Linked DNA regions of Homo sapiens: all the other regions are reported to be linked to region 3. The links are microRNA targets in miRTarBase. Many come from high-throughput screens and were not tested one by one. Region 3 holds a microRNA gene; each other region holds the end of a gene's coding sequence.
The links. The annotated mature microRNA hsa-miR-31-5p reads AGGCAAGAUGCUGGCAUAGCU and lies in region 3 at 2,023-2,043, shown strand. An mRNA with a match to its seed (bases 2 to 7 or 8) in the 3' UTR can be bound and repressed. Matches are read on the target gene's strand: a 7mer-m8 pairs with bases 2 to 8, a 7mer-A1 pairs with bases 2 to 7 and ends in A, and an 8mer does both.

Region 1: miRTarBase lists TRIB3 as a target of hsa-miR-31-5p. The part of its 3' UTR that is shown has no 7-base or 8-base seed match.
Region 2: the mRNA of FAM193A is a reported target of hsa-miR-31-5p. Seed matches in the 3' UTR shown: 7mer-A1 at 2,428-2,434.
Region 4: the mRNA of INTU is a reported target of hsa-miR-31-5p. Seed matches in the 3' UTR shown: 7mer-m8 at 2,870-2,876.

What each region holds. Positions count from the first base shown.
Region 1 is chr20:395,943-399,121 of GRCh38, forward strand. TRIB3 (tribbles pseudokinase 3) reads left to right here. Exons shown (of 4, transcript NM_021158.5): 4 at 256-1,617. The coding sequence ends at 748. Among named protein-coding and RNA genes, the nearest start is that of RBCK1, 11 kb to the right of the region's middle. RefSeq lists an enhancer at 3,060-3,179.
Region 2 is chr4:2,731,217-2,734,395 of GRCh38, reverse strand. It overlaps FAM193A (family with sequence similarity 193 member A), which reads right to left. Exons shown (of 21, transcript NM_001366318.2): 21 at 1,823-2,621. The coding sequence ends at 2,528. Among named protein-coding and RNA genes, the nearest start is that of TNIP2, 24 kb to the left of the region's middle.
Region 3 is chr9:21,511,053-21,514,200 of GRCh38, reverse strand. MIR31 (microRNA 31) reads left to right here and starts at 2,016; the gene lies at 2,016-2,086. All of the region lies in intron 1 of MIR31HG (MIR31 host gene), which reads left to right.
Region 4 is chr4:127,716,114-127,719,292 of GRCh38, forward strand. INTU (inturned planar cell polarity protein) reads left to right here. Exons shown (of 16, transcript NM_015693.4): 16 at 212-3,179. The coding sequence ends at 323. Among named protein-coding and RNA genes, the nearest start is that of SLC25A31, 13 kb to the right of the region's middle.

The DNA.
Region 1 (3,179 bases), not on the chromosome of region 3:
AGGGACTCTGTTGAAAAATGTATTCCTTTCAGAATTTTAGTTTAAATTTAATTGCTCTGTGGCCTTAAATGACTTAACCTCTCTGAGCCTGGGCTTGGGTATCTGTAAAACAGGATCAGACATCACAGGACTGGCTTGTGTCTGTCAAAGGCCAGCAGGCACTTGGAAAGTGGGTGCCACAAGGGTGATAGCATGGGGTGGTGGCATGGGGGTTCTGGGTAGGACCTGACCCTTCTGTTTCTCCCCATGTCCCAGGAAGAAGCTGGTGCTGGAGAACCTGGAGGACTCCTGCGTGCTGACTGGGCCAGATGATTCCCTGTGGGACAAGCACGCGTGCCCAGCCTACGTGGGACCTGAGATACTCAGCTCACGGGCCTCATACTCGGGCAAGGCAGCCGATGTCTGGAGCCTGGGCGTGGCGCTCTTCACCATGCTGGCCGGCCACTACCCCTTCCAGGACTCGGAGCCTGTCCTGCTCTTCGGCAAGATCCGCCGCGGGGCCTACGCCTTGCCTGCAGGCCTCTCGGCCCCTGCCCGCTGTCTGGTTCGCTGCCTCCTTCGTCGGGAGCCAGCTGAACGGCTCACAGCCACAGGCATCCTCCTGCACCCCTGGCTGCGACAGGACCCGATGCCCTTAGCCCCAACCCGATCCCATCTCTGGGAGGCTGCCCAGGTGGTCCCTGATGGACTGGGGCTGGACGAAGCCAGGGAAGAGGAGGGAGACAGAGAAGTGGTTCTGTATGGCTAGGACCACCCTACTACACGCTCAGCTGCCAACAGTGGATTGAGTTTGGGGGTAGCTCCAAGCCTTCTCCTGCCTCTGAACTGAGCCAAACCTTCAGTGCCTTCCAGAAGGGAGAAAGGCAGAAGCCTGTGTGGAGTGTGCTGTGTACACATCTGCTTTGTTCCACACACATGCAGTTCCTGCTTGGGTGCTTATCAGGTGCCAAGCCCTGTTCTCGGTGCTGGGAGTACAGCAGTGAGCAAAGGAGACAATATTCCCTGCTCACAGAGATGACAAACTGGCATCCTTGAGCTGACAACACTTTTCCATGACCATAGGTCACTGTCTACACTGGGTACACTTTGTACCAGTGTCGGCCTCCACTGATGCTGGTGCTCAGGCACCTCTGTCCAAGGACAATCCCTTTCACAAACAAACCAGCTGCCTTTGTATCTTGTACCTTTTCAGAGAAAGGGAGGTATCCCTGTGCCAAAGGCTCCAGGCCTCTCCCCTGCAACTCAGGACCCAAGCCCAGCTCACTCTGGGAACTGTGTTCCCAGCATCTCTGTCCTCTTGATTAAGAGATTCTCCTTCCAGGCCTAAGCCTGGGATTTGGGCCAGAGATAAGAATCCAAACTATGAGGCTAGTTCTTGTCTAACTCAAGACTGTTCTGGAATGAGGGTCCAGGCCTGTCAACCATGGGGCTTCTGACCTGAGCACCAAGGTTGAGGGACAGGATTAGGCAGGGTCTGTCCTGTGGCCACCTGGAAAGTCCCAGGTGGGACTCTTCTGGGGACACTTGGGGTCCACAATCCCAGGTCCATACTCTAGGTTTTGGATACCATGAGTATGTATGTTTACCTGTGCCTAATAAAGGAGAATTATGAAATAATTTTATTTTTCTCTGCAATTTCTTCCATCCTTTCCAACGATCTCTTACCAGTTTTTCCTGCCTTCAAAACTGGCCCCCATGGTGAAAGGCCGTAGAGTTGTGTCTTAACCTGGGCTGAGTGGTTTGTGAGAACAGATTACCTGGAGCCCAGTGGGTCTTCCTGCACTCCTTCTGTTTCTTCTGGCAGCAGCAGTGTCTCTATTAGGGTACTTTCTGAGTCAAAATGGCTTCAACAAGATGGAAATATGTTTCACACAAAACAAGAAGTCAGCAGATAGGGTGGGCTTCAGTGCTGGTCCATTCAACTCCCAAAGCTGCGCACAGGGACCCCGGCTCTCCAGGCTCCTTCTGTCTCTTGGCTGTATTGTCTCGAGACTGCTGGCCCAATGGCTACAGCAGGTGTCACATTAAAGAGGTCCATGACCAGAGGAAGAAGCCAGGGGTCATTGTAGTACCTGAGAACTCAGAACTCTGGAGTCAGGCTGCCTGGAATTAAATCCTGGCTCCAGCACTCAATAGCTGTTTGACCCTTGGCAAGTTTCTTAACCACTCTATGCCTCAGATTCTTCATCTGTGAAATGGGGGACAATGATAGTACCTAACTTATGAGAACTAAATGACTTATTTTGTATAAAGCAATTAGAACAAGCAGCGCCTGGCATAATAAGCCCACAATAAAAGTTACTCCCGGCTGGGCACGGTGGCTCACGCCTGTAATCCCAGCACTTTGGGAGGCCGAGGTGGGCAGATCACAAGGTCAGGAGTTCAAGACCAACCTGACCAACATGGTGAAACCCCGTCTCTACTAAAAATACAAAAATTTTTAGTAGAGACGGGGCGTGGTGGTGCGTGCCTGTAGTCCCAGCTACTCGGGAGGCTGAGGCAGGAGAATTGCTTGAACCCGGGAGGTGGACGTTGCAGTGAGCCAAGATCCCGCCACTGCACTCAGCCTGGGCAAGAGAGCGAGACTCCGTCTCGAAAAAAAAAAAAATGGTGCTCCCACATTTCTTTCTTGGGATGGAGGAAGCTTTCCCAGAAGCGCTCCTGACCGACTTTCCCACACATCTCACTGGTCAGAACTGCATCACTTGCCGTTTCTGACCAATCACCAGCTTACATTCATGGGGCACGTGCTTACACTAACCATGGCACTCCTCGAGCTAAGTGGAGCTCATGCGTCATATGGAGGGGTAGTGACTCCTGAGCAAAACCAGGTTCAAAGAGGGAGGGGATCGTAGGGAAAAGAATGTGCGGAAGTGCGGAGGCCCAGCCAACAGCCTGCTAACTGCAGATACTCGAGAGCGGCCACCCTAGATCATCTGACCCAGGCTGGCCCACGCTAGAATTGCCCAGTGACCCGCAAGGTCATGAGCTAATTGAGCTAAATAAAATCATTGTGTTTTTTTGTTTGTTTGTTTTGTTTTTGTTGTTTTGTTTTTTGAGACAGAGTCTCACTCTGTCACCCAGGCTGGAGTGCAGTGGTGCGATCTTGGCTCACTGCAACCTCTGCCTCCCGGGTTTTCAAACGATTCTTCTGCTTCTGCCTCAGCCTCCCGAGTAGC
Region 2 (3,179 bases), not on the chromosome of region 3:
GCTTCTCAATACAACTGTTCACTGTTAAAGTTTCCTTTCTAACTATTGTTATTGTTTCATTTCATGACTATTACAGGTTGAGTATGCCTAACCCGAAAGGTTCCAAAATTCAAATCCTTTTGAGTGTTAAGATGATGCTCCAAGGAAATGCTCATTGGAGCATTTTGGATTTCAGATTTTTGGATTAGAAATGCTCAATTGGTAAGCATGATGTAAATACTCCAAATCCAAAAAAGTCTGAAACTGGACACACTTCTGGTACTGAGGATGCCAGATAAGGGATAAGGGATACTCACCCTGTGCTACTGTGTGAGTCAAAAATGTGAGGCTCCCCTATGGCGGCCCCACCCTCCCCCACAGGGAAGTGATGTCATCAGGAACCCCAGGGGCTCCCATCAAGTCAGGGACCCTGGAGCTGGATGTCCTATAAGCACCCTGGGATGCTGGAAGGATGAGTGGTTTCCAGGGAAATAGAGGAAGATCCTTCCTGGCAAGGGCATGGCCAGGACAATGGCTGGGAGCCTGAGGGCCAAAGCTAGCAGGTGCAGGTCAGGGGCCAGAGCGGGCAGAGCTGTGAAGCCGCAGGCAGGGTTGCCATGGAGGTGATGGGAGTGCCCAGAACTGGGCATGTGCGGTGGGCGTCTGAGGGTCTCTAGGTCCCAGCATGATGCTTAGTGTGTCGGGGCACCCAGAGTTCCCCATCACCACTCAGGGCTGTGCAGTTCCCCTCAGCAACAGGCATGGTTCAGCACAGTGTTAAAGGCTGTCCATGGGGAGAGCAGGGCAGGTACTGGGGGCCTGGGCAGGCAGCTTCCCCATAGGGCGAGGCCCGGGCCTGGGCCTTTCCCCAGCCACCACCGCAGCCAGAAGAGGCAGCGGCTGGAGTCCCGGGGGCCTGCACTGGGGTTTCAAGGACACTACTGTTGCCGTGGTCATGGCCTGACCTGCTTCACTCTCTGCCCTATCATCCCACGAACAAAGGAACGTTCTCTTCCTCACACCTGGAAAAAAAAACAAGTGAGGAAAGTTCGTCGTGCTGCACCTCCCCTGGTTGGTGACCCTTTTCCAGCTTTCGTGCAATCTCCAGAGTTCTAGGACCTGCTGTCCCCACCTCATTCTCCTGCAAACCGGTGCCTGGGTGGGGGTGCCCTGGGCCTTGTCTCCCCTGACCTGCCTCGAAGCCTCCTCACCCTCCTCTGCCTTCCTGGTTCCACAGCTCGGGCCCCCATCCCATCTACTCACCCCTGCAGGGCCCTCACACAGGCTCTGTCCATGAACAGCAGTCCCCAGTTCCAGACCTCTCACCTGGGTGGCCGGTGGACATCCCAGACTCACCATCCAGAACTGGTCTCCAGTCCCACCTCCAGGCACACAGCGCAGGTCTTCACCTCTTTCTCCTACCTGCATCCTGTCCACCAGGAAATCCTGTGGCCTCATCGTCCGAATACCTCCAGAAGCTGGCTCTCCCTACCCTCTCCCCAACCAGGCCCTGCCCTATTCACCTTCACTCAGAGTGAAGTCATACTCTGATAGGGCACACAGAGACAGGCTGAACATGAGGCTGGGAGAAGTGGGAGCTACTGAGTGTTCTAGGTAGTAAGAAGTAACCAGGATGCAGCTCCTTGGGAGCTTTCTGTCTCCTGCTGCCTGCTCTGCCTGGCACACAGAGGATGGTGGGGGCACCAGGATGGGTGAGCCGTTGCCTGGAGAGACCTGGGACCTGCTCCGGGGTGGTGCCCTGGCTCCCCATGGCGGACACATCACCTACACGCCCTCTCCCGCTATCCCCCCACTCCCCCAGCAGAAAGAAGCAGCCGAGGTCTCCTGCTGTACTAATGTATTCCATCTTTCAAAAAGAAAGACATGATTTTAATATTACTTAACAATATGTTAAAAAAGTAGCCAGGCAGGCCTCCGTGTTAATACAGTCGTACACTCTATAACAGACTTGATGGTGTGAGTACTGGGTGGGCTTGTTTTTAACTTTCTCGTTCTGCAAGGGATCTTACACAAGCTGGCTACAAGTCAGGGGGATCAAACACAAACAGCGCAACGTGTACACTCGGAGACAGTAGATTGTGGAGAACAAAGGAGGCCTGCCCCGCCCAGCCCGCCTAGGGTGAGACGCAGGGGCACAGGAGAGCTGAGTGACGGCCGATACCCCGGTGAGGACACATGACAGGACAGGGCGCAATGCAGAGGCAACGGAGCCACGTGGATGATGCAAACTCCTATCTGGCCACGGCCCAGGCCTCCGAGGCCGCGGTGGTGGGAGGACTTGGCGGGAACTACTGTTCCAATCCGACAGCACAGAGCTACAATCGAAGGAGTCTCACGCACAGACTACACGCACACGAGCTAACGGCGTGGGCCGAGCATCAACTTCTCGGTCTGGGGTTTCAGGCAGCACCAGCTCCGCACAGCCCTTGGCAAGCACCACGGCTCTGGGGCGCCAGCGAGGGGCGTGGCTCTTGGGGTGGTGCAGCCTGGCCTGCCTCTCGCGTGTCCCTCTCCAGGGAGTCCTCATTCAGTGGGCAGCAAAGGTGGCTTTTTTCAAGCTAAAATTGGACCAGTTGATAGACAGTCTTTGTCGGGTCTGTCTAGCAGAATCCAAGCAGAACCTGCAAAGACAAAAAGCCAAACAGTCACTGAAGGAAACAGCCCACAACCAAGCTGGTGCTTGGCAAAGCCCATCACACTCCTGTTCTTGCCAGAAACTCACTGCGGGGTCAGGGGTTTAGATTCTCGGTGAGGGGCACAGTGTCAAGGGTCCCCTCCAGGCCCTGCTACAGGCTGCACTTGAGAAGGGGAAAGGACTCGGGAGGAGGAATGGGTGGGCGGAAGGAGTCCTGAGAAAGAAAAGAAACGTTTAATCTGAGAGCTGTGAGCGCCCTTAAATTATCAGGCCCAGGCAGGGTGTGGTGGCTCATACCTGTAATCCCAGCACTTTGGGAGGCTGAGGAGGGCAAATCACTTCAACTTAGGAGTTCGAGACCAGCCTGGGCAACATGGTGAAATCCTTTTTTTTTTGAGACAGGGTCTCACTCTCTTGCCCAGGCTGGAGTTCAGTGGCAGTTTCGGCTCACTGCAACCTCCACCTCCAAGGTTCAAGCAATTCTCTGCCTCAGCCTCCCAAGTAGCTAGGACTACAGGCATGTACCACCACACCGGTTTTTTTT
Region 3 (3,148 bases):
CTAATTTATTTTTATTTTTAGTAGAGATGGAATCTTGCTATATTTCTCTGGCTGATCTTGATCTCCTGGCCTCAAGTGATCCTTCCACCTTGGCCTTCAAAAGTTCTGAGATGTACTCAAGACCATGCCTGGCCTTGAATCTGAAATTTTTATGTGCAAAATGGAACTGAAAAAAGTCACAAGAAATTACTGTTTTCAAATATGTACCATATACCTTCTAAAATGATGCAGCTTGTACCTGCCTCTTAATTATGAATATCAGATATTAGTAATATTTTTTAAAATAATGAGTTTATTGGAGAAGCTTTATTCAGTTAAATCTTCTCAATTCAGAATTTTGTTACCTAACCTGTTTTGCATTTGCCATTAATTTTGATTCAATGCTCTGTACTTAATGATCCCCAAATTCCTAAATACCCTTACATTAATAGATCATGCAATTAAGTTGAATTGTATCCTAGGAAGTCAATTAGTACCTCTTCCACAAGTTACCTAGCCTCAGGACAAGATGTTACAGGCTTTTGTGCAATAGAACACTCATAAGTTCCTACCCTCACAAGAACAGACACCACATACTGTATATGCGTGGGTGACTGCATATGTGTATATCTAGTACCAGGCTTAGGTAATGCTGGACTTTTGTTTCTGGCAAAGGCAATTGATACTAGAATCATATTTAAAAGAGTATGCTTCTTCCTTATCTATACCTTGGTAGCACTATATAACAAAATGTTTTACCTTTATAGGTTACCTTACACTCCATTTTGGGTAAATAATACGTATTACTTACTAGTTTTTTAATAGAGACATATTAAAGAGGAAAGCAAACATAATTTATAATCCTATCCAATTTTTTTATTTAAAATAATAAATTGCTCATTTATCCTTTAATAAAAAACATGTATGTATGCCCTCCAGGTATGTGTCTGTGTATACATTTTCACTTGCACAAAAGTTATACATAATGTCATTATTCTTATGCCTTACTGTTTTGTAAGGACCACCAAATATTCTGTTGTATAACTATATTATTTATTTAGCCTGTATCAATCATACTGATGAGTGTTCAAGTTGTCTCCAATCTTTTACTATTAAAAACAGTGTTGCAGTGAACATCCTTGGACCTAGAACTTAGTGGTACTTTTGCAAATGTACTTGTGAAATAAGTTTCTAGCTGGGAATTTTTGGCTCAAAAGAGCATTATTTTTGGCAGGGCATGGTGGCTCATGCCTGTAATCCAAACACTTTGGGAAGTGGAGGCAGGAGTATGGCTTGAGTTTAAGGGTTTGAGACCAGCCTGGGCAACATAGCGAGACCTTGTCTCTACTAAAAATACAAAAAAAAAAAAAAAGAGTGATGGCACACACCTGTAGTCCCAGTTGCTTGAGAGGCTAGGGTGGGAGGATTCACCTGAGCCTGGGAGATTGAGGCTGCAGTGAGCTATGGTCGCACCACTGCACTGTATCCTGGATGACAGAGCAAGAATGTCTTTAAAAAAATCCAAAAATAACATTATTTTTAAGAGCACATAAAGCAGTGAACTAACTACACACTGCTGAGCCACAGTTTGTTATTGTTTAAATACATCTGAGTGGCAGAAATTGACCAAGTAAAGTTATTAGAGTAAAAATAAAATTGTACTGAGAGTCACTGGGATATTTTGTGGACTATAAATATGGTGGTAATAGCCTATAATTAACTGTCATCAACTTTAGACATTATTGATTTAATAAAATTTTTGTCACAATTTCATCCCTGTGGTTTCACAAGTAGTCCATAAACATTCTCGAGGTTCATTTTAGATCAAAGACCATTAAAAAAATGGAACTACCCACAAACCTCCTGTGCCTAACTACATCTTCAAAAGCGGACACTCTAAGGAAGACTATGTTGTTATGATCAGAAATAAGTGCGCTTTCAATTAATGAGTGTGTTTTCCCTCCCTCAGGTGAAAGGAAAAATTTTGGAAAAGTAAAACACTGAAGAGTCATAGTATTCTCCTGTAACTTGGAACTGGAGAGGAGGCAAGATGCTGGCATAGCTGTTGAACTGGGAACCTGCTATGCCAACATATTGCCATCTTTCCTGTCTGACAGCAGCCATGGCCACCTGCATGCCAGTCCTTCGTGTATTGCTGTGTATGTGCGCCCTTCCTTGGATGTGGATTTCCATGACATGGCCTTTCTCACCTTCCTTACTTCCTGTCCTGCTATGTATTGTGTCCTACCATGAATTCACTCCATGCTAGCCACATTGGCCTGTATGGCTATTCCTTGGACACACCTAGGATGTTCTTGCCTCTTAGCTTGCCTACCTTTCTCTCATCATTTGGGCCTCAGCGAGGATATCATCTCCTCAGAGAAGCCTTCTGTGACCATGCTATCTAAAATACTCCAGCACTTCAGTCACCCTTTATCCCATTACTCTGCTTTTTCAGAAACATTGGTGCTCCCTGAAACGTATTTGTTTACTTGCTTAGTGTCTTTTCTCCCGCACTACCATGTAAGCTTCTTGAGGGTTAGGGACCTTGTTAGGGATAACCACTGTATCCTTAGAGTGTGACACATAGTAGGTTCTCAATACATATTTTTGAAACTCTACCCTGATGCAAAAGAGATATCAAATAATTATAGTTTTTGCATTATAAATGTCTTTGGTGAAATCCCTGGCACAAAACTAATAATAAAGAAATAAACAGATAATGTTGAGTTCTGGGCCTGCAAACCTAACTCTTTAAAGCAGTCACAGTAAATGTGTCATTGGATCCATAGACTTGTGGAAGTCAGCATATTTTATTGGGAAAAGCATGAGCTTCAAAGTAAAACTTATGGTCAAATCTCATTACTGGTGCGTTCTTAAGTCATTTAACCTCTGAGCCACAGTTTACACAAATGTAAAATTAGAGTAATAATAGTGACTCCATAGGACCCTCAAGATAAGGAAATAAGGTATTTTAGTCAGATGATTCTTATCACATGTCTAAAAATTTAGTGTCTCTAAAATTCTTGATATATGCATACCAGTAGACACTCAACACATTTATTTCACTACTAAGAAAAAAGTTTTCTTTAGTTAGAGACAAGGGATTTTATGTGAAATGTGTGGAAATTCTATGCCAGAACGATAGTACATGTAGAATTCTTTGTAA
Region 4 (3,179 bases), not on the chromosome of region 3:
CTCTAGAGCAATAAAAACTAATTGACCTAAGGCATATATTATTTATTTAGAAATAAATCTAGCTGCTTTCTCCCTAGTATAGATTTAGATTCATGGATTTTAAATTTACTACTGATGCTTTCAGAAACAAAAATTAAATTAATTGGATGGTTAGAGTTTTTGTTGTTTGTTGTTTTAATTTCTGAAATGAGTGTGTTCTTTTCTTCTGCAGGAGACTTTTTCTTCATCCAAAACCTCAAGAACTTTATGTCTGTTTTCATGACTCAGTCACAGAAATTGCCATTGAAATAGCTTTTAAATTGTTCTTTGGGTTAACCTTGTAGCTGTGCTTTCTTGATGCGTAGAAACACGTGCATGGAGGATCAAACACTGTCAGAATTGCTGAAATCAATACACAAAGAGATAAAGTTTAGCTTCTTTTTACTATTCAATATTGAACATAATATTGTTAAATATTGAGATGAAATGCTGTTGGATTTGATACATTAAATCTTAATGTAATATTGTAAGACTTTTGAGAATATACTTGATTAAAATGTGAAAGAAGGGATTGTTAACTTATTGCTATTTTGGTATATAATGTTAATTTATTGACTAGTTTGAAATAATGTGAAGTGTTTTTTATATCAGATTAATATAGGAAATGTTTATTCTTGAAAAATACTCAATTTGTTGTTGTTTATTTTTCTCAAAATTCATACTGATATCTGATGAAATGATTATGAAATTGGGAGCAGGTGACCAGGTGCTGTAACTAAGTAGTGCTATGACCATGAGCAAGTTTTTGTACCTCTCTAAGCTCAGAGTTTTCATGTAAAATGAGATGATTGCATTGAGGTTTCAAAAATACCTCTTAAGTAAAATGTGCTTTTATTTTATTTTAGTTTTAGTTTTAGTTCTGGGGTACATGTGCAGGATGTGCAGGTTCGTTACATAGGTAAACATGTGCCATGGCGGTTTGCTCCACCTATCAACCCATCACCTAGGTATTAAGCCTAGCATGCATTAGCTATTTTTCCTAATACTCTCCCTACCCCCACAACAGGCCCTGGTGTGCATTGTTCCCCTCCCTTTGTCCATGTGTTCTCATGGTCAGCTCCCACTTATAAGTGAGAACCTACAGTGTTTGGTTTTCTGTTCCTGCATTAGTTTGCTGAGGATAATGGCTTCCAGCTTCATCCATGTCCCTGCAGAGGACATGATCTCATACCTTTTTGTGGCTGCATAGTATTCCATGGTGTATGTGTACCACATTTTCTTTATCCAGTCTATTGCTGATGGGCATTTGGGTTGATTCCATGTCTTTGCTATTGTAAATAGTGCTTCAATGAACATATGTGTGCATATATATTTGTAATTGAATGATTTATATTACTTTGAGTATAAACCCAGTAATGGGATTGCTGGGTCAAATGGCATTTCTGGTTCTAGATCTTTGAAGAATCACCACACTGTCTTCCACAATGGTTGAACTAATTCACATTCCCACCAACAGTGTAAAAGCGTTCCTATTTCCTCACAGCCTCGCCAGCATCTGTTATTTCTTGACTTTTTAATAATAGCCACTCTGACTGGTGTGAGATGATATCTCATTGTGGTTTTGATTTGCATTTCTCTAACAATCAGTGATATTGAGCTTTTTTTTCATATGTTTGTTGGCTGCATGAATGTCTTCTTTTGAGAAGTGTCTGTTCATGTCCTTTGCCCAGTTTTTAATGCGGTTCTATTTTTTCTTGTAACTTGGTTTGAGTTCCTTGTAGATCCTGGATATCAGATCATTGTTGGATGAATAGATTGCCAAAATTTTCTCCCACTCTGTAGGTTGCCTGTTCACTCTGATGATAGTTTCTTTTGCTGTGCAGAAGGTCTTTAATTTAACTAGATCCCATTTGTCAAGTTTTGCTTTTGTTGCAGTTGCTTTTGTGATTTCATCATGAAATCTTTGCCCATGCTCATGTCTTAAATGGTATTGCCTAGATTTTCTTCTAGGGATTTTATAGTTTTGGGCTTTACATTTAAGCCTTTATTCTATCTTAATTTTTTGTATAAGGTATGAGGAATGGGTCCAGTTTCTATTTTCTGCATATGGATAGCTAGTTCTCCCAGCACCATTTATTAAATAAGGAATCCTTTCCCCATTGCTTGTTTTTCTCAGGTTTGTTGAAGATCAGATGGTTGTAGATGTGCAATCTTATTTCTGAGTTCTCTATTCTATTCCATTGGTCTATGTGTCAGTTTTTGTACCAGTACCATGATGTTTTGGTTATTGTACCCTTACAGTACAGTTTGAAGTTTGGTAGTGTGATGCCTCCAGCTTTGATCTTTTGGCTTAGGATTGCCTTGGCTATACAGGCTCTTTTTTTGGTTCCATATAAATTTTAAAATAGTTTTTTCTAATTCTATGAAGAATATCAATGGTAGTTTAATGGGAATAACATTGACTCTATAAATTACTTTGGGCAGTATGGCTATTTTCATGATATTGATTCTTACTGTCTGTGAGCATGGAATATTTTTCCATTTGTTTGTGTCCTCTCTGGTTTCCTTGAGCCGTGGTTTGTAGTTCTCCTTGAAGAGGTCCTTCACTTCCCTTGTTAGCTGTATTCCTAGGTATTTTATTCTCTTTGAAGCAATTGTGAGTAGGAGTTCATTCATGATTTGGATCTCTGCTTGCCTGTTGTTGGTGTATAGGAATGCTGGTGACTTCTGCACAATGATTTTGTATCTTGAGACTTTGCTGAAGTTGCTTATCAGCTTAAGAAGCTTTTGGGCTGAGACAATGGGGTTTTCTAGATATAGGATAATGTCCTCTGCAAACAAAGACATTTTGACTTCCTCTCTTCTTCTTTGAATACCCTTTATTTCTTTCTCTTGCCTGATTGCCCTGGCCAGGACTTCCAATACTATGTTGAATAGTGGTGAGAGAGGTCATCCTTGTCTTGTGCTGGTTTTCAAGGGGAGTGCTTCCAGCTTTTGCCCATTCGGTATGATATTGGCTGTGAGTCTGTCATAAATGGCTCTTATTATTTTGAAGTATGTTCCTTCAATACCTAGTTTATTGAGAGTTTTTAACATGAAAGGATGTTGAATTTTATTGAAGGTGTTTTCTGCATCTATTGAGTTAATCATGTGGTCTTTGTCTTTAGTTCTGTTTGTGTGATGAATTAAGTTTATTGATT